Regions from separate parts of the Homo sapiens genome. Here regions 2, 3 and 4 are each linked to region 1. The links come from fine-mapping of genetic effects on gene expression. A gene starts in region 1. Each other region holds a variant in brackets. All regions are shown on one strand. Distances are from middle to middle. Region 1 holds the start of FCGR1A (Fc gamma receptor Ia). Region 2 holds the start of LOC105371406 (a long non-coding RNA gene). Region 3 overlaps LOC105371406 (a long non-coding RNA gene). Region 4 overlaps PDE4DIP (phosphodiesterase 4D interacting protein).

The links. PIP is the estimated chance that this variant, and not a neighbour inherited with it, causes the effect. A credible set is the group of variants that fine-mapping cannot tell apart.
Region 2: its variant is the best candidate, but not a certain one, in a credible set for the expression of FCGR1A in whole blood (INTERVAL, PIP 0.90).
Region 3: its variant is the best candidate, but not a certain one, in a credible set for the expression of FCGR1A in blood mononuclear cells (TOPMed, PIP 0.56).
Region 4: its variant is the best candidate, but not a certain one, in a credible set for the expression of FCGR1A in whole blood (INTERVAL, PIP 0.86).

The regions. Positions count from the first base shown.
Region 1 is chr1:149,780,641-149,785,793 of GRCh38, reverse strand. It overlaps FCGR1A (Fc gamma receptor Ia), which reads right to left and starts at 3,100. Exons shown (of 6, transcript NM_000566.4): 1 at 3,020-3,100; 2 at 2,604-2,624; 3 at 1,537-1,791. The coding sequence starts at 3,050. It overlaps LOC124904411, which reads left to right. Exons shown (of 2, transcript XM_047438183.1): 2 at 2,534-2,904. It also overlaps a transcript of H2BC18 not described here.
Region 2 is chr1:149,729,943-149,735,095 of GRCh38, reverse strand. LOC105371406 (a long non-coding RNA gene) reads right to left here and starts at 1,481. Exons shown (of 4, transcript XR_007066595.1): 1 at 565-1,481. It also overlaps the pseudogene PDE4DIPP7. The variant AAACAAAACAC/C (reference allele first, on the strand shown) is at 2,008.
Region 3 is chr1:149,755,299-149,760,451 of GRCh38, reverse strand. The region is part of intron 2 of LOC105371406 (a long non-coding RNA gene); the gene reads right to left. It also overlaps the pseudogene TRR-CCT8-1. Among named protein-coding and RNA genes, the nearest start is that of TRN-GTT8-1, 18 kb to the right of the region's middle. The variant A/T (reference allele first, on the strand shown) is at 2,946.
Region 4 is chr1:148,968,728-148,973,880 of GRCh38, reverse strand. PDE4DIP (phosphodiesterase 4D interacting protein) reads right to left here. Exons shown (of 47, transcript NM_001395426.1): 17 at 4,851-5,045; 18 at 1,537-1,701; 19 at 1,289-1,370. Among named protein-coding and RNA genes, the nearest start is that of PDE4DIP, 130 kb to the right of the region's middle. The variant A/G (reference allele first, on the strand shown) is at 2,424.

The DNA.
Region 1 (5,153 bases):
GAGGTGCTGGAAATGTCTAAAATAGATCTGGATGCTGTTTACTTTGAAAAAATTTACTGTGGCATACATTTATGGCTTGTTGTACATAAGTTATATTTCAATGAAAATTCACATTAAAATGTAATATAAAAAAGATATGATTCTCAGTAAGTCACTGATGCTGAGTGTCCTAGAGTCTGTGTAGAGGTAAAGAAAATGGACTCTTCCCAGCCCTAGTCCTTTTGTTGTCACTTGAACCATGAAACACTTCTGCTTGAATTACCCAAAGTATCTTGTTGAAACAGCTCTGTCAGAGGTTGCAGTGAGCCAAGATCACACCACTGCATTCCAGCCTGGGCAACGGAGTGAGACTCTGTCTCAAAAAAAAAAAAAAAAAAAAAAAAAACGAAACAGCTCTGTCAGCTTCCCTAACCTCTCCATCCTAAGAACTTATTTACAGAGACCTAAGGGACACATGAGGAACATCAAGCCTTCCCTCAGACATTCTCAACATTTCCTTGGCTAAAACACATTTCCTCTAACAGCAACCATGTCTGCATAAAGGCAATTTTGCCTCCAGTGTGGATTGACTTTTGCATTATCATTTTTAACGAAGTTTAAACTCATCACTTCTGAATAACTAAATAATACATTTGGTTATTTTGTCTTGCATATTGAATGAAGCATTTTTCCCTGAAGAATATTGCAGTCTCCATCTCTTGATGAATAGAAACTCCTTACAGGTTTAAGTGGGTGGTGGGCTTTTCTGCTTCCATTTATTAAAATATGACAATAATTCCATGTCCAGAATATTATCTTACAGATACCCTATGAAATGTGCCCCCGGAATGTATGTATAAAGATAATTATTGCAGCAATGCTTGTAAAATCAAAAGAGTGGAAACATCTTATAAATTTGCTAATAGGCAGAATGGTTAAATTAATTCTGGTACAGCTGTGCAGCAGACATTTTAAAGTGGATTTCTATTAATATAAACAGAACTTTAAGGTATTTTAAGTGATAAAAGTAAGATATAGGACAATACTTAGAAAGTGTTCTACCACCCACAGCTTTAAAACTATATATATGTGTGTATATATATATATATATATAGTTTATATATAATAATGCTAATATATACATATATATGCATAATATGTATATATATATTAGCAGTTTTGTTTCTGTGGAAGGTGACTGCAGATCTAGGTTTTGGGTGGGAGGAAGATATTTCATTGTTCATTATTGCTCATTTGTTTGAATTATTATTATTTACTATGTACAGGCATACATTTGGAATAATGATACAATCTTAGGGCCTAAGTCTTACTCTAGACATCCTACTTAGAGCTGGCCTAGCTGAGGTACTGTTGGTACACAGTTTAAGGACCCTGCTGTGATGTTTTGAGTATACTGATTTAGTTTCACCTGGTAGGTACATAGTGCTGAGACCTGCACCCAGATAAATCGACACACACACATCTGGCATCCAGAAAGGAGAGAACGCAGAGGAAGACCTTGTGGTTTCCGGCCCTCCTGGTCCAAGTCATAATTACCTCTGTGGATTTCCAGCTGTATGGGGTCACTTCGCCCTGAGAGACCTCTCTGGCACCTGTATTCACCACTGTCATTGACACTGGCAGAGGTGATTCTGTAGCTGGGGGTCGAGGTCTGAGTGGCTGTGCCATTGAGAAACCACTGTGTAGAGCTGCTCCCAGGCAGATGGAGCACCTCACAGTGCAAGGTTACGGTTTCCTCTTGGAACACGCTGACCCATGGAGGCTGCAAAGTGATCACTGCCTTTGTGGTGTCTACTTGGAGATTACAAGAAGAAAAAGAAAAAGATCAAGTGGAGTAAAGGGGAGGGCTCTGAGCAACTGGTGAGGCTTTTGTGGATAGCACAAGGGAAAAATACATATTTAGATTTATTTGAAAAATAGGCAAGTGGAAACCTACAAAAGCCAGCCTTTAAGAGTGTCCTCCTGCTGCAGAGACCTCTGTTCATTGTTATTAAATCCTCATCTGGGTGTTGGGAATCTGGGGCTCCTGAGGATTAAATTACTGATGTAGGTTTTTCTGTTGGGAGCAATGAAGCAGGGTTTTAGACTTGGGCAAGCCAAGCGGAGCTGTTTTCCTTATCCTCTGAGCTATACTGTCTCTGAGAGTACATTGCAGGGCTTCAGCAGCTTGTACATTGGAAACGGAGGTTCAAACTCCTCTCTTTGAAGCCTTCAGTATTTGCCTGGCTCTTTCTGAGGAGAAAAAACCCACTCTGCTTTCTTGTAAAGGGGACTGGTTTAGGGGATGTTGGGAAACCCAGCAGACTACTTCAGTGTCAGCAGACTACTTTAGTGTTTGTGCAATTCTGGCCCTTTCCTGCTGTTATATATACATTCAGGCATTTCGCTCAGAGGAAAGAGCTCATTCAGAAAACTTTAGAAAGAAAGCTTACAAATCATAGTTTTTATGAAAATCATGCTCTGAATATGGGAGATTTTACATAATTTATAAATCTTTCTTCTTTCTCTGCTTTCCCTATATGCTCTTCTGCAGGTTAATAGGACCCATCCTTTGGAAGTAGGAAAGTGGCATAGAAGGAGAAGCTGAGTTAGAGATCACTCACCCACTTGCCCATCAACTGGAACTGCAAGAGATCAGAGAATAAAGATATCAGTTGGTCCAAGGAAAATAATGAGGAAGAGAGAATTGGGGAGACAGAATTAATGTAGACTCTGAGGGATCAACTCAGATCTCTTGAGTTTCTATTTCTCTTTCTCAAAATCCAGTACTAACAGAACTGAACAAGCTACAGGTGGTTATCAAGGAAACTTCACTGCGGTGCGTCCAGGCTTAATGCTACCTCAGGGTTGCCCTTCCCATCCTTTTCATAAAATAAGCTCTAATAAACCATGGAAGCACAGATACAAGTTGCTTCATACTCATGAGTTCTACCCAGAGTTACCACAGGAAGACAAAACTCTTGACTCACAACAGCCACAGCCTGTACCCTTCTAACTGTCCCCTCTGAGTCCAACTTACCCCAAAGGAGCAGAGTTGTCAAGAACCACATGTTGTCTCCAAGCTGGTGGGAGCAGTGAAATCTGTAACATGCAAGATATTGAAGAGGTTCTGCTGGTGGCTCCAGAGCCAAATTAGAAAAGAGGAAGGAAATTGCCTTTTCTGACCATTTTCATCATGTTGCTTTTCTGGGAAATACATCTCAAATTCTTGAAACATGCTTTTCCCATGCTCATACCTGTTAGCCCATCTCTCCCAGTTTGAATCTCTGATTTTCAGGTTATGAACTCTCAGAATCCAGGGAAAAGGCTAAAGTTGTATTGACATTCTATTCTATTTTTACCCTCTACCGTTTCTGTTTCTTACGGTTAGAATATGGCAAAACCTCACTCTTTATAATTGGTTCAATGCCTGGCTAATGCCTCCAAACAATCATTTGAATCCAGAAGTTTCTATATCAGCCTCTATGAGGCCATGGGAAAAGTTACTCATCTACAAGAGCTGCCCTAATACAAACCAGCCTCTGCTCCTCTAGGGGACACAGACAGGATCAATCTCCCATTTTGGTTAAAAAAGAAAACAAACTCTCTTCCTGAAAGACATCATGAATTTGGAGTGTTTATTTTGGCTAAATCCAAGGTAATTAATTGTTTAATGTGGATGCTATGGAGAAGAAAAATAACTCATGCACATGGATAGCAATATCTTCAAGAAAAGAGTTTCAGAGTACAAGTGGGGAGCTCTGTGCCACCAAACTGAGGTGGCTCCTGAGACAGAGTTGTAACCCCATAAAAAGATTTTTAGGTATTGTGGTAAGAGAGAAAGAGAGCTAAATGGAAACTAAATGAGAGCTAAAAAAAGAGAGCTAAAGAGAGCTAAATGAATTCAATGAGTGCAGAGAGACTTTGGCAATCTTACTAGCAGAGAATGAAAAATGATGACAAATCATGCTGTAAGTTGGTGTACTGGCCCCAGTTTCTCACCGCTCCCTGAATCTACACTCTCTCCACAGCCTCATGAGGGTATGTCTCTGACTCTTGACTGTGGCTCATCATGAGACTTTCATTGGCCAGCGAAATGTGAATGGAAATGACATGGTGCTAATTTCAAACTTAGCACTTAGGAAGCTTCACACATTATCTCTCACCCTCTTGTTCTCCTGTGATTGCTGAGACAAGAACATTTTTTAGCTAGTCAGCCACAGTGCGAAACAGAGCTGTCCTAGACATTGTGGCTTGAGGCAGAGCTGCCTCACCTGCCCTGCAAACTTGTAAGTGAGAACTAAATGCTTACCTTTATATGCTACTGAGATTTGAGGATTGCTATACGAGCAAGAGCTGACTGACACAAATGAAAAGCAAGGAAGAAAGGCCGGGAAGAACTCAGGGTGTTCTGAAGAGACGAGAGAAGCCTCAGCTTGTTAAAATTTATATTCAAAGCCTATATCTGTAACTATTTTACTATTTTGTCTCCAAAGTTTTCTACTGTATGCATGTACCATAATTTATTTCACCAACTTCTCTTCATGAACATGTAGGTTATTTCTAATTTTTTACTGTGTGACCAGTAAAAAAGACTGCTTACTACCAAAATAGTCTTGTGACTACCTTTAAACATTTGACTTATTTTTTCCTTAGGACACATTCCTAGAATCAGTAGTGCTTACTCAAAGGAAATGCGCATTTTTTCCTTTGGATAAGATGCTATCAGATTGTCTATGATCATTATCCTCATCACTGCATAAATTTTAGAGTGCTTATTACATGCCAGACAAATATGCTTGATACATGTTTTCTTATTTAAGCCTCACAATAATCCATGAGTAGACACTAGTATCTCCATTTTACAAATGATAAACCTAGTGAAAGAGGAAATCAGTAATTTGTCCAAGGTTGTAAAAAATAGAAGCAGGATTCAAAATCAGACAGTTTGATTTCCTTTACGTACTCACTGATGGAGTATAACAGTGCCCACCCCATGCCTTGCGATTCCTGCTTTGTAGTAAAATAGCTACTTCTTTGAAAAATAAGTGAAATCATTTCATTGATCAGGATAACATGAGGGAATTAGGATTGTTGTGTAAGAGGAATGTAAGATCTATAGCCTGGAAGGATAAAATACTTTCTTTCTAATAAGTATTGTTGTTTCCAAATGT
Region 2 (5,153 bases), 51 kb after region 1:
CAAGGAGAGGTATACTTAGGTTATTTTGCTGTGGTTAGAAATTGGTTGACAACATAAGCAAAAGGGTAAAAAAGCTGGCTATTGAGGGGGTGGCCTCCCCTGTTATAGAGACCTCCAGGGTGAAATACGCAGCCTTGCATTGAGTGTGGCTATCAGAAGTCAGGGCTTCCTTGGGTTCTGTAGCTACTTCCACATTCTAATTCTGTGATTGTGACTCAAGAGCTGGCACCCTGAGTCTTCCCCATAGCACTATTGTTGATGTCCCAGTGACATGGGATTTGAGCTCTGGCATCTGAAAATGTGTTCCTGCCTTCATGACTCTCAAAACTTGTGGAAGCAAAATGCTTCCTGACCTCTGAAGGGACATTCCCTGGGAACTTCATAAGAACTTTATCTCAGCTATAAGAAACAAAAATACTCATCCCTTAGCTTAGTTTAAACCCCATTTGTTTTCATTCATTTATTGCCTGTTTTTTCTTCTAAACACCTGTGGGACCTCCCCTTCCTTCTCATAACAGCACCCACCCCGACCCCACCCCAGCACTTGCTGCATCTTTCTTTTACCCAGTGGATTGTTGGGTCCTCATGGCTGAGGAAGTTGTAGGCTTCACTCTACTTCCTGGTAGGCTCTGCTCTTGAGATTCTATCGTCCTACAGGATCTCCACTAATAATCTAACCTCTGTAAGCCATAATTTTGTTTCAATTGCTTTAGGTAGTTTTGGAGAAAAGCCTGGCCATTGTGAAGACATAGACATCTTTCTTCTCTGTCCTTCCTTTCAAAGACGGCTGTAAGAGAGCTCTTCATGAGAAAATGTCCCAGCAGAAGGCTGGGATGCATCAGCCCTCAGAGAAGAAGGGACCTGCTGAGAAGGGAGTGAATGAGCAGAAGCCTCGGGTTGAGGAAGAATTCTCTGTATCCTGCAGTGGGCAAGAGACTTCCCACTATCAGCATTAAGTCATTGCTCGTCAGAGTAGCTTTCAGGGCCTGCAGCCAGCCTCCATACCTTAATTGTAGGGCTTTCTCTTAATACCTTCCTGGAAATTTCTTCAGAGAAAAATCTATAAAAGTTTTATTAGTAATGACTTTATATTATTCAGAGAAATTTGGTTTTATTCTAACTAACATTGCATGTATTCACCAAATATATGGCCTTTGTGGTTACCTGAGCTGGAAATCTTCCAGTCATGTGAGTGGTCTCTCTTCTGGATCCCCAGGAGCATGTAGGAATCTCCTGTTTCTTCATATGTTACTCTGGTGAATGCTGAACTGTCCCAGTTCCCGAGGAGGTAGATTTATACAGAGGCCCCTCCATTCTACTCCATCCTCTATGGAAACTCAGGTCCCTGGCTTCTGGAATGGCAGTTTTGATAAGCTGAATTTTAAAAATAAGCTTGCAGAATTGTCAAATAGTGGCTTGTTGGCTAAATTTGTCAGTTTGTTTTTAATGGCCATTTTCCTATAGCTTTTTGGAAGCATTTAAATAATATGGGGTTAATCCATTACGCATTTGCCTGTGAGCGCCAGTTACTGAAATACTAAGTTACTGAAATCAGTAATTTGCCTAAGTGGTTGGTGCACAGCTTTGGAAGTGATTCAAATCCTGCTTCATGCTCCATTAGGTCACTGCCCAATATATTCCACTTAAATTTCACTGACCCAGAGAATAATGTTAGGGCTAAAATAACGCTAGGCCAGGCGCAGTGGCTCACGCCTGTAATCTCAGCACTTTGGGAGGCTGAGGTGGGCAGATCACTTGAGGTCAGGAATTGGAGACAGCCTGGCCAACATGGTGAAACCCCGTCTCTACTAAAAATACAAAAATTAGCTGGGCATGGTGGTGGGCACCTGTAATCCCAGCTACTTGGGAGGCTGAGGCAGGAGAATTGCTTGAACCTGGGAGGTGGAGATTGCAGTGAGCCAAGATAGCGCCACTGCACTTCAGCCTGGATGACAGAGCAAGATTCCATCTCAGACAAAACAAAACAAAACAAAACAAAACAAAACA[AAACAAAACAC/C]CCAAAAAACTCTAGAGTCAGTTAGTCTCATTACCTCATTTTAGAACTGAGAACACTTAGGCCCTAAGAGATAGTCATTTGATCAAAGTTGCATAATAGCCTCTGGCAGAGATAACATTAGAATCCTGTGCTCTCGATTCACAAAGGCTACACTACACCCACTTCATCAAATATATTTTTAAAAATTATACTTCTGTGATCATTCTTTTTTTTAATGGACTTTTTAAGAGCAGCTTTAAGTTCACAGCAAAATTGAGTGGAAAGTAACAGAGAGTTCCCATATGCCCCCTACCCCTGCACGGACACAGCCTCCCTCACTATCAACATCTTGCCCCCGAGTGATAACATTTGGTACAACTGATGAACCTACATTGACTCATCATCACCCAAAGTCCACAGTTTACAGTGGGGTTCATTCTTGGTGGTGTATATTCTATAGATTTTGACACAAGTATAAATGTATAATGGCATGCATCCACCATTGTAATAAAGAATGACTATTCCCTGCCCTAAAAATTCTCTGTGCTCTGCCTATTCATTCTCCTTTCCCTCCTAACACCTGGCAACCACTGATCTTTTTACTGTCTCCACTGTTTTACCTATCCATAGTGTCATATAGTCAGAGTCATACAGTATGTAGCTTTTTTAGGTTGGCTTCTTTCACTTACACACTTAAGGTTCTTTCATGTCTTTTCATGGCTTCATAACTCATTTCTTTTTAGTACCAAATAATATTCCATTGACTGCATGTACCAAAATTTATCCATTCACCTACTGAAGGACATCTTGGTTGCTTCCAAGTTTTTGCAGTTATGAATAGAGCTGCTATAAACATCATGTGCAGGTTTTTGTGTGAACTTAAGTTTTCAGCTCGCTTGGGAAAATACTGAGGAGCAGATGGTTAGGTCATTTGGTAAGAGTATGTTTAGTTTCACAAGAAAATGCCAAACTGTCTTCCAAAGTGGCTGTACTATTTTGCATTCCCACCGGCAAGGAATGAGAATATCTGTTGTTCCACATCCTTACCAGCATTTGGTGTTATCAGTGTTCTGGATTTTGCCATTCTAATAGGTGTAGAGTGGTATCTTGTTGTTTTAATTTGCAATTCCCTAATGACATATGATGTTGAGCATCTTTTCATATTCTTATTTGCCATCATCTTTGGTGAGGTGTCTGTTCAGGGTTTTTTGCCCATTTTTTATTGTGTGGTTCATTTTCTTATTGTTGAGTTTAAGAGTTCTTTGTGTATTTGGCTTAATAGTCCTTTACCAGATATGTCTTTTGCAAATATTTTCACCCAGTGTGTTGTCTTCTCATTCTCTTGATGTGCCTTTTGCAGAGCAGAAGTTTTTAATTTTAATGAAGTCCAGATTATCAATTATTTCTTTTGTGGATCATGCCTTTTGTGTTATATCTGAAAAGTTATCATATAGCTGGGCTCGGTGGCTCACACCTGCAATCCCAGCACTTTGGAAGGCTGAGGCAAGAGGATCACTTGAGCCCAAGAGTTTGGCTGCAGTGAGCCATAATCACACCATGATCATGCCCAAGGAATGCTTCAGTGAGCCATGATCATGCCCTCCAACAAATAAATAAAATAATTAATTTATTTAGAGACTCTGTCTCTAAATTAAAATTGGTATTGCATTGAATCTTTAGATCAATAAATAAAATAAATAAAAAGTCATCACCAATCCCAAGGTCATCTAGATTTTCAGCTGTTGTTATCTTTTAGGGTTTTTTTTTTTAATCATTTTATGTTTTACATTTAGGCCTATGATCCATTTTGTGTAAGTTTTCATGAAGAATGTGAAGTCTGTGTCTAGATTCACTTTTTTTGCATGTGGATGTCCCGCTGTTCCAGCACCATTTTTTGAAAATACTATCTTTTCTCCATTGTATTGCCCTTGTCCCTTTGTCAAAGATCAATCTGCTATATTTTGGAGTCTTCTGGAATCTCTATTCTGTTCCGCTGACTTATTTGTCTATTCTTTCACAAATCTTATACTGTCCTGATTACTGTAGCTTTACAGTAAGTCTTGAAGTCAGGTCATATCAGCCCTCCGTTCCTTTTCAATATTGTGTTGGCCATTCTGGGTCTTTTGCCTCTCTATGTACACCTTAGCATCTATTAGTTGATATTCACAAAATTTATTTGCTGAGATTTTGATTGGTATTGCATTGAATCTTTAGATCAAGTTGGGAAGAACTGACATCTTGACAATATTTAGTCTTCCTGTCCATGAACACAGAATATCTCTCTGTGTATTTAGTGCTTCTTTGATCTCTCTCAACAGAGTTTTGCAGTTTTCCTCATACAGATCTTGTACATGTTTTGTTAGATTTTACCTTGACATAATCACTTACTAGTTCCAGGAGATTTTTGTTGTCAATTCTTTCAGATTTTCTTTTCTTTTCTTTTTGTTTTTGAGATGGAGTCTCACTGTGTCGCCCAGGTTGGAGTGTAGTGGCTCAATCTCGGCTCACTGCAAGCTTCGCCTCCTGGGTTCAAGCCATTCTCCTGCCTCAGCCTCCTGAGTAGCCTGGCTACTATTTTGTTTTTTTAGTAGAGACGGGGTTTCGCTGTGTTAGCCAGGATGGTCTCGATCTCCTGACCTCATGATCCGCCCACCTCGACCTCCCTAAGTGCTGGAGTTACGGGCATGAGCCACCGCGCCCGGCCTTTTTTTTTTTTTTTTTTTGAGTCAGTGTCTCACTTTGTCACTCAGGGTGGAGTGCAGAGTGGCACGATGTCATCTCACTGCAACCTTTGCTTCCCGGATTCAAGCAATTCTCCTTCCTCAGCCTCCCAAGTAGCTGGATTACAAGCGCATGCCACCACGCCCGGCTAATTTTTGTATTTTTTGTAAAGACGGGGTTTCACCATGTTGGAGATTTTCTATAATACAATAACTGCATCACGTGTGAACAAAGACAGTTTTAGTTCATCTTTTCTAATCTGTATACCATTTATTTCCTTTGCTTATCTTACTGCATTAGCTAGGATTTCCAGTATGATGGTGAAAAGAAGTGGTAAGTGGGGAAATTCTTGCCTTATTGTTGATGTTAGTGAGAAAGCTTCTAGTTTCTAGTATGACATTAGTGTAGAGTTTTTATAGATGTTCTTTATCAAGTT
Region 3 (5,153 bases), 25 kb after region 1:
AATACACAAACACAAAAATATAACAAATAGAGTGAGAAAGTCTACTTTATTTTTAGTTAGAGGCTCAAAAGTAGAAGAGAGAGAAAATAGAGGCAATAACTGAAGAGATAATACTTGAGAGTTTTCCAGACAAAATGAAACTCAAAAGTCAACAGATTCTAGAAGGCCTACCAATCAAAGAAGATAAATAAAGGGAACTCCATACCTAAAGACAGAGTAGTAAAACTGCAGACAATAAAAAAAAAAAAACAAAGACAAAAATAGTAAAGACAAAAAACAGAGGAAAAAAAGGAACATTACATTCAAATAAGCAGCAGCGAGACAATTGGCTGCCTTCTGAAAAGAAACAATCAAATGTAAATATCTTCAATATGCTGAAAGAAAATAACTGCCTCCAGAATTACATACTTAGTAAAAATAATCTCCAATAATTAAAGCAAATAAAGACACTTTCAGAGAAAAATAGCTGAAACAGTTTTTCACAAGCAGACCAACACAAAAGGAAATTCTAAATGATGTTTCTCAGGCAGAAGGACCATGATTACATATGGAAATTCAGAGACATAGCAGAAATAAAGAGTAAGATAGCAGCACATATGTTGATAAATCTAAATTAACATTAACTACATAAAATATATGTCTAGTCTTCTGGGGTTTAAAACTATTAATACTTAGACCTAATAAATGATAACAGCATATATATAGAATGAGACTAAATGGAATAAAAGTATTCCAACATCCATATATTGTGCAGGAAGAGGATAACGGTATCAATTATTACTATGTTTAATAAATTAAGGATTAGCTGGGCACGGTGGCTCACGCCTGTAATCCCAATACTTTGGGAGGCCAAGGTGGGCGGATCATGAGGTCAAGAGATGGAGACCATCCTGGCCAACACAGTGAAGCCCTGTCTCTACTAAAAAAATACAAAAATTAGCTGCACCTGTAGTCCCAGCTACTCGGGAGGCTGAGGCAGGAGAATCACTTGAACCCGAGAGGCAGAGGTTGCTGTGAGCCAAGATCGTGGCACAGTACTCCAGCCTGGAGACAGAGTGAGACTCTGTCTCAAAAAAAAAAAAAAAAAAAAAAAATTAAGGATTAAGATTGTAATTTTTAAAGTAACCACAAAAGAATAGAAGCAACTTAAATACAATTAAAGGAAATACAATAAGGAAGAAAGTGAAGCAAAGCATATAAAAAAGTAAAAAAATATAATGTTATAATAGTTAAAAATAACCAATCCAAAACAGACAAGAAAAGACATAGAAACAGAACAAGCAGAACAAACAGAAAAAAATAAAGATGGTAGATTTAAAATTAATATATATCAACAATTACATTAAATGTAAGTGGACCAAATTATCCAGTAAAACAAACCCCCGAAATACTGCTACACTGGATTTTTAAATTAACTATATGATATATTTAGGAGTTGTATCTAAACCAGAAAGTGAGAGAAAGGTTGGAAATGAAAGGCGAGAAAAGGAGCTTGACTGAAAACATTAACAAAAAGGTGGCTATATTAATAGACTCTAAAGCAAAAAACATGACATCAGAATATATCTCTTAGAGAATATAACCATTCCTTTCTAAATACTTTTTATGCTGACTGGTTATCATAGGTGACAATATATGTTAATCTGTCTGCACCATTTTGTTAAGACAAAAAGCTTTGGTATTTTCTTCTTCACTCTCCAACTATAAAGCTATAATAAACTAATAAATCTTTAAATATTCCTTATCTTTAAAATTTTTGTATAAGTGATTATTGTCATGTTATTTAGTGCAGTGGTTTATTTTCATCCTTTCTTCCTAATCTCCAAGTATTGCCAGGTACTTGAGCTTTTCCAATGCACACGTATCAAAGCCAGCATGAGTCCAGAACCTACTGCCTCTGAGAGCTGATCCATGGTAATTCTTTTCCCAACATCCTCTTGGTCTCTAGGACTCTAATGACCAAAGGAAAAGAGATTGCTGTTGCTTGGCTACTATGTTGGTAGATATGATTTAAGGCTACAGGTATGTCCAGATTTACACTGTGGAAAGGTCACTCAGGATACAGTGTGGCAAATGGGTTGGAATAGACAAGACTGGCTGTAGAGAGGCCAGTTTTTGATCTACTTATGTTAATGGAGGTGATGGATGGACCAGCGTAGTAACAAAGTGGGAATGAGTCTGTATAGAGTCCAATAAATTTAAATACTATAATTCTTTGGAAATGAATTGTCGTGTTGGGAGATTGGGAGTGTTTAAAGAAGATATCAAGATCTGATTTGAGGAGCAGGATGCATAGCAGTGAGGATAAGTGTCTAGGCAGGGGTAGAAGCAGGTTTTAGTGATCTGTTGAAACACCCACAGCAACACACTACTCTTTGGGAGATGCTGGCTTGGGGCTGATCATTGAGGTAGAGGGTAGTATATGATGCTGACAGGGAACTCACTGGTGTGTTGAGTTTTAGCATCTGTGACTCTGAGATGCATATGAGGCCTCTTGTAAATTTTGGGGTTGAGAGTAGAAAGTACAGGTTTGTATTTTAGAAAGAGATTTCGGAATAAATGTAGCTCTGGTTGACACAGACAATATGTGAAGGTTTGTTGGCCAGAACTAGTATGTGTCTTGGGTGTTGGGCAGAGAACAGATTGAGCCAAAGCTCTGCAAGGCCAGTGTGAAGGGTGATTTCCTTGTTGGGTTCAAGTTTATGACTCAGCCTGGACCTAGCTTGGCTTCTCAACTAGAGAAGAAGCATGATTCCATGTCATACACAACTCCTGTCTTTGAAAAAATCATAATGACTCCCAGACCCAACATGTGGGGCAAACTTTCCAGATTTTTCTCTTCAGTTTAATCTTTCCAGGGAAAATTGGGGAAAGAAATCTCTCTATTTGAACTTCATCAAAAGACCAATATGTTAATATTTCAGCCATTAATATGTCTTTAAACC[A/T]TGTTACTCCTTAAACAGCTATTACACGAAAGTGTATTAACTGAGGAAACTGGGTTCTCCCAAACAATGAAACACTGACTGCAAGCATTATTCATCTTTTTATATCATAAATTCCTTCAAATATTTTAGACATTTTAGAAAGCAAATAATAGTATTATAATGATTACAAGACTGATCATTACTCTTTTACAAAAAACGGCCACAAATAACTAACTCCATTAGCATTACCTTCTGTCCTTTCATTTCCTCTTTCTTTGTCTTCTTTTTTTGCCTATGATATTCTGGTATAGCATATTCCCTCTTTCTTCTAATTCTAATTCTGATTCTGCTTCTTATTTCTTCCCTAGATTAAAACTTTACTTACCTATGCTGCCAGTTAGTGCTTCCTTCCCAGAGCCACTAAAGCAACAGTTTGAGGTTGAGGTCCTAAATTGAAGATTTAGGATCAGAAACAAGGAACCTGGATGAATTTCTGATGTTTTTCTATAGGAGTCTGTTACGCAGTTGGAAGGAGCCTTTTTCGGAATTAAAGTTTGATCAAATAAGCTATTTTAATATTTATAGTTTTGTCTAGTAAAAGTATTCTGTAAAAACCTTGGTTTTGGATGTCTACTGTTAGCTTTTAGTCAATACTGCAAAAAGCTTCTTTTGGAACAATTTCTGTCTTTTTCAGTATTGTATTTCAATTGTTTCTCCAGGACCACACATAAGAGCCGGATTTGTGGTCCAGTGGTAGAATTCTCACCGCCTGCATAGGAGACCCTGGTTTAATTCCTGGCCAATGCAACAAGTTTTGTGCTTCACTTCTCTATATTCTTTATACTTCTGCCCTGCACAGGCTATCCCATGTTTAAGGGCCTTGGTTGTGGAGGCTTTTGATTTATGACAATGGTAACCCAAGTGATGGCCAATGCCTGAAGCATAAGATATTCAGGAAATGATCTAATGATCTAGGGACCTTGCAGTTAGAGTCAAGAGCCATTCCTGTAATCCCAGCACTTTGGCAGGTCAAGGCAGGTGGATCACCTGAGGTCAGGAGTTTGAGACTAGCCTGGCCAACATGGTGAAACCCAGTCTCTACTAAAAATACAAAAATTTGCCAGGCATGGTGGCACACACCTGGAGCTACTTAGCATAGTCTATCTTTGAAAGTGGCAAGTGTTTCTGGTAGTTTGATGCAGTTTTGAATATTGGTATGTAAAACTTTTGTTACTTTCATCTATTCTCCAGGTAGATCCCTAGAATCCCAAAGAACCATCACGTCCCTGATTCGCATGCTAGACCTTGGGCTGACCGCTGGGTCACGCCTCACTATGGAGCGAGGAACAAGAAGTGAAGTCCCCTGAAGGAGAGAAGCTGTGGGGAGGAGCAGTCACCTTGGTGGTGTCAGGTGTCGGCAGTCCAAGAAAAGGGGAGGCACGTGGGGAGGAATCCGTGCGGAGATGAGGGGAGCAGTGGAGACGTGGCTTTGGGCAGAGGTGGCGAGTGGACCCTCAGGCCTGTACCCTGGACACCATGAACAGAATTAGTTAACATTGTCACCCACCATGGCCTCCGTGTGTTCCGTGAGCCCATTTGCTTTCCCAAAGGGATTCCTAGCAATGTGTGTCAACAGGTGTTGGCCTGATTTTTTTTTAATTTTTATTTTTTGAGACTGGGCAGTGCAGCAGTGGCTTGGTCTTGACTCACTGCAACTTCCGCCTCTTGGGTTCAAGTCCTTACCTGGCAATACTGTGTTGAAGCCATTGAAACTGTCCCTATAAACTTTATAAAATTAATCAGGGAAGAAGGGAAGGGGAGAAACAAAAATAAACAAGCTTGCAGCAATTTTGCATTACTCTTGAGAGCAGCCTGCTCTTGGACCTGCTTCCTCACAGTTGTTTGGTGCTGTTTGTGCTAGAATCAGGCAGGCCCTAGATTATAGTTCTCCTGAACTGTTCTATAGATAACAACCTGAAGATTATGAAATGTTAAGTTTCCCGTTAGAGATATTCTTTCAGATCCTGTGTACCAGTGAAACTACTGATGTCAGCTGGTCTGAAGGACCCCACTGAGGAACTGACTCAGTATGCAGTTTCCAAATCCTAATGATTTCATCCCCCTTCCCCTGCCCAATCAACAACCTTAATTTTCCAACCCCTCACCCTCCACAATCCCCTTAAAAACCCTAACGCAGAAGTTCTTGAGGAGATGGATTTGAGGGTCTAC
Region 4 (5,153 bases), 810 kb after region 1:
ACTAATATAAATAAATAAATCTATATAGCAAATAGATAACAAAACCATCCAGAAGATAATAAAAAAATTAATCCAAATAATTTTTGAACTCACTACTACTCTAACTGAACACTGTCAGTGCAAAATATCCTAAGGATAAAAAGAATTACAAAAAAATCTTAAACATTACTTAATACATTTATTGTTGATGGTGATATTTATGTAACAATTCCAAAAATACTTTTGCATATTATAGTATTCTGCAACTGTGTAAATATTTTGAAATATATTGATGCTATAAGTAACCAGGGCTCTCAAGGAGATACAAATATGAAATGAGGGAAAAAAGAACCTATATTGTTAAATTGGAATTAAGGAAATCAGTATCAAATCTTCACATATATACAAATACACACATACATACTTAAAAATATTCATTGCTAGTTCTGTTCTCTTAAAAGGGCCTAGAAGCGGCTGGGCGCAGTGGCTCACATCTGTAATCTCAGTACTTTGGGAGGCCGAGGAGGGCGGATCACGAGGTCAGGAGATTGAGACCATCCTGGCTAACACGGTGAAACCCCGTCTCTACTAAAAATACAAAAAAATTAGCTGGGTGTGGTGGCTGGCGCCTGTAGTCCCAGCTACTCGAGAGGTGAGCAGAGAGATCGTGCCACTGCACTCCCACCTGGGTGACAGAGCGAGACTCCGTCTCAAAAAAAAAAAAGGTCCTAGAAGCAAAAGGCATTCATGTAGCAATGAACACATCTTGTGTCCAGATCATAGTTTCTGAATGCCATTACCCACCAAAAGGAACCAGGGAGCTCTTTAGGATAATGGCTGATTCTGGGACTGAGGCAGGTAAAGCAAAAGGTAATCATAGAACATCTTATTGTGCCAGAAACTATCAAACTATGCTAACATTATATATATATATAACATTAGTAGGTGATGTCAAGTTACAGTGAGTGGCCCCAGACTTGAAACGATACCCAGGAAAAGGTGTCAGCTCATGGCCCTGCTGTGCAGGATTGGAACAATTACCTCCTGCATTTCTGAATCCCTGCAAAGCTATCTGAAAAGGAGAGTAAGGATAGAATTTCTCTGGGCCGAATTGTGAACCCAGAGCAATCAGCTCAACTCAACATAAGGTAAGGACAGTTCTTCAGCCTTTCAGAGGAATTCCAAACTTATTTGTTCTATTAAGGTAGGAAGAGAAAAGAGTCTTGGCCAAACCTATAATACAGAGATTACTAGAAGAAAAAACAAGAGAAAAACAAAGTCCCTTAATGAAATGAAATTTGATACTTACCTAATGTGGATCTGGGTATGCTGACATCCTCTTTGGCAGTCAATGAAGTGCTATCATCTCTGGAAGGTATCTGCATTGAACCCTAAAAAATTGCAAAAGTCAGGGGACTTAGGAAGATGCAGGAACTATGATCACAATGACAGTACTGAGAATATTCTCAGAATTTGGTATTAAAATTATCAAACTTACACCTCAAATGTAAAAAGGAAATGGAATCAGCATGAATTATGTAAGTCTATAGTTCTTACTTGATCAGTCTGTTTTCCAAGACGGCCAGTGGGGGTAACTTCAGCTTGTTGGTTAGAGATGGGTGCTTGGGACATCAGGGAGTCTCTCCCTCCTAAATATTGGCGCAGGGCCTGTAATTCTGAATTTCTTTCCATTAAGGCTTGCACCAACTTCTCTGCAGCAGCCTAGTAAGAGGAAATCACAAATAACATTATAAAGATATTCTAGTAAAACAAATTTTTTGTTCTGGTATTATTTCTTCAAAGTCAACCATTTGTAAAAAACAAACAACAATGACAACAACAAAAAACAGTGGGTCCTTAGGAAATAGTTTCCTTGCTTTCAGTTTACAGGGAAAAACAGAGTTAAGTGAATGGAAAGAAAGTCTCATAGGCAGAATATTGGGAAAAAAAACTGAATTTAACACATCTGTAACAGATAAGAGAATCTGAAATAGGTTCTGCTACAACTATCAGGCTAAGGTGTTAAGATTCTGGTTTGAATTAGTATAACAAATGTCTTTATTCTCGGATAGTTGCTTCTTAGGGGTGGATTCCTTTTCACTCAAACATTTGTGTGGTTTGCTCCCTTCAGGTCTTTGCCAAATGTCACCTTATCAGGTTGGTCTTTCCTGCGTATCCTATCCAAAACAGCAATCTTGCTGGCCAAAGTATAAGATGAATATGTTTTGGGGATCCAATGATAGCATGGTGACTTTAGTTAATAATACTGTATTATTTACTTGAAATTTGCTAAGAGAGTAGATCTTAAGTGGTTTCACCATACACGCATAAAATGTGTAGTGACGGATGTGTTAATTTGTGGCAATCACTTCAAAATGTATATGTATATCAACACATCATGCTGTACACCTTGAGTATATACAATATTTGTCAATTATACTTTA[A/G]TAAAGCTGGGAAAAAATTTTTTTTAAAACCCAGCAATCTCTTCTCTATCTCCAACACTTCTTACTGTGCTTAATTTTTTTTCGATGCACTTACCATTATCTAATAGATCTCTCTCTCTGCTTCCCCTACATGGAATGTAAGTTTCCTAAAGGCAATTTGGTGCTGAATCTCAAGCACCCAGTACGGTGTCTGGCACATAATAGGCACACACTACATATTTACTGAATGAATCAATTACGCACATAAACATGTTTATCAGACCACATGATTAGGATAATCTCAACCTCAAAATCACCCAACTCAGCTTGTTTCATTTCAAATCCCAGTTTTCTAAGACAGATGATGACACACTAAGGGAAAGATCTAGAACATTTTTAACTATTAATGCACAGGAAGTCTGCATTTAAACAGAAAATCTGGAAATAATAAATTGATATTAAAATTACTGAGGGTCTAAGATGATGAATCATAACACCAACTGTCTCTGAGGAAAAGTACTATTGTTTTAGGGCAGAAGCTGAGCTCTTGTCACAATTTCTAGGGGAAATATGAAAAAACCTTCCACTTTTCAGTAAGTAAAATTTGGGCTCTTTGGAGATTTGAATTTAACTATTTTAGACGTATCAGAATATTATTAAAGTACCTTAATAAAAATATCTGTGAAAACTGTGGGGAAAAAACATAATAAATAATATACAAGATATATACTGTGCTCTATCTGCCTTGGCACTCCTTTTCTCGTAGTATTTAAGAGTTTTTAGCAGTGCTCCTCCAATGCAGTCCCCGAACCTGCAGCATCACTATCACCTGGAAACTTGTTAGAAATGCAAATTCTTAAGTCCCACCTATACCTCGTAATTTCTTTCTCTGGAGTTGAGCTCCACAATCTACATCTTTAAAAAGCTATTCAGGTGATTTCTTTTGCACGTAAATTTAGAGAAGCAGATCTAGAAGAATACAACCATTAATCTTCTTGAGTTGAAAAATCTCCTGTAATTTCCATCATCTCCATTATTCTATTACCAGCAGTGCATAATTTTTTTTCTGAGGTATAATAAAGACCAATTGTCCCAAATCACAAAGAAGTTAAAAAGAAAACTCAAAGATCCTAGCCTCTTGCCAAAGATTTAAATAATTTAGAATAATTTTGTTAGGTCTATTTTAGAAACAATTTCTGAAGCACACAGCAGGACCTTTCTAGAAAGATGTGTATTTACTTCAGTGGGCCTAACAATTAGAATAGTGGAGTATAATCCTTTCACAACATAAGAAAACATAAGAAAATATTATGGGGTCAAATAACATAGGCAAAAAAGAGTCTATCTTCCTCTAAAAACTGACTACGGGGATTCTGAGCTACTGGTATCTGAAATGCAGCACAAGTCAACTAAGAGTTTTTAGCCTTGAGGAGAAAACACATAGAAATGAGGAAAAATTAACACTTTACTATGGGCAGGGCATGGTGGCTCACGCCTGTAATCCCAGCACTTTGGGAGGCTGAGATGGGTGGATCACTTGAGGCCAGGAATCGTAAGCCAGCCTGGCCAACATGGTGAAACCCCATCTCTACTAAAAATACAAAACTTAGCGGGCATGGTGGTGCATGCCTGTAATCCCAGCTACTTGGGAGGCTGAAGCAGAAGAATTGCTTGAACCCAGGAGGCAGAGGTTGCAGTGAGCCAAGATTGCGCCATCGCACTCCAGCTGGGTGACAGAGGGAGATGCCATCTCAAAAAAAAAAAAAAAAAAGAATTTACTTCTTAAATATTGTGAAATTAATATACCCTGTACTATTATGAGATTGTTTATTCTCACCATGACCTCTGAAAAATGCGATCTTTTTTCCCTCTTAACTCAGATTTTACAAAAACTAAGAGTAAACATGTTGAGTGTAAGTTTTCCCATACCTTGACTGGAAATGCAAAATATCACTCAAGTCTTAACAATTTAGAATCAAAATCGAAACACTCACAACCCCTACTCCTTTCTCTCAAAATTATCAGATTATTAAGGAAAAGAAAATGTATGTAATGAAGTTAATGGATACATGTATTGTTTAGGCACCCTTCCAAATGCAAGGTTTTCAAGAAATGTGTCATACTTTGATGATTAATGTAAAACTGTGGTCTAAGGCCAGGCGCAGCAGCTCACACGTATAGTCCCAGCACTTTGGGAAGCCAAGGCAGGATGATTGCTTGAGCCCAGGAGTTTGAGACCAGCCTGTGCAACACAGCGAAACCCCCATCTCTAAATAAGTAAGTAAATAAATAAAACTGTGGTTTAGGTAATAAATAGAAGGAAAGAAACTAACAGAGTTGACGGTAAAATATATAAATATACACACATCTATAGTCTGCAAATGCTTCCTATTTGCAGACTATAAATGCACTACATGACACTTGTCTGATCTGTGCATTAATCCTTACTTGGCTTTCCTGCTCCCTGGTGCTCACAGACTGAAGCAGGCCTTGAATCTCCATTTCATGTTCCAGCACTTGTTTATTTCGATCACTTAGAAGGTCCTGCAGCATCCTTTCCTTTCGCTGTAGACGCTGGCACAGCTCCTCTGCTATCTCACTCTGCCCTGGTCCAAGTTTGCAGAGCAGTGTTGCACTAAGATCCTAATGCAGAAAGGACACTGTAAGCTTCTGGAGGAAAGAAATGCCTCTGCTAAATATCAAAGGGCTTATAAGAATCTATCATAGAAGAAGGAGGTGTGAGATTCTTGA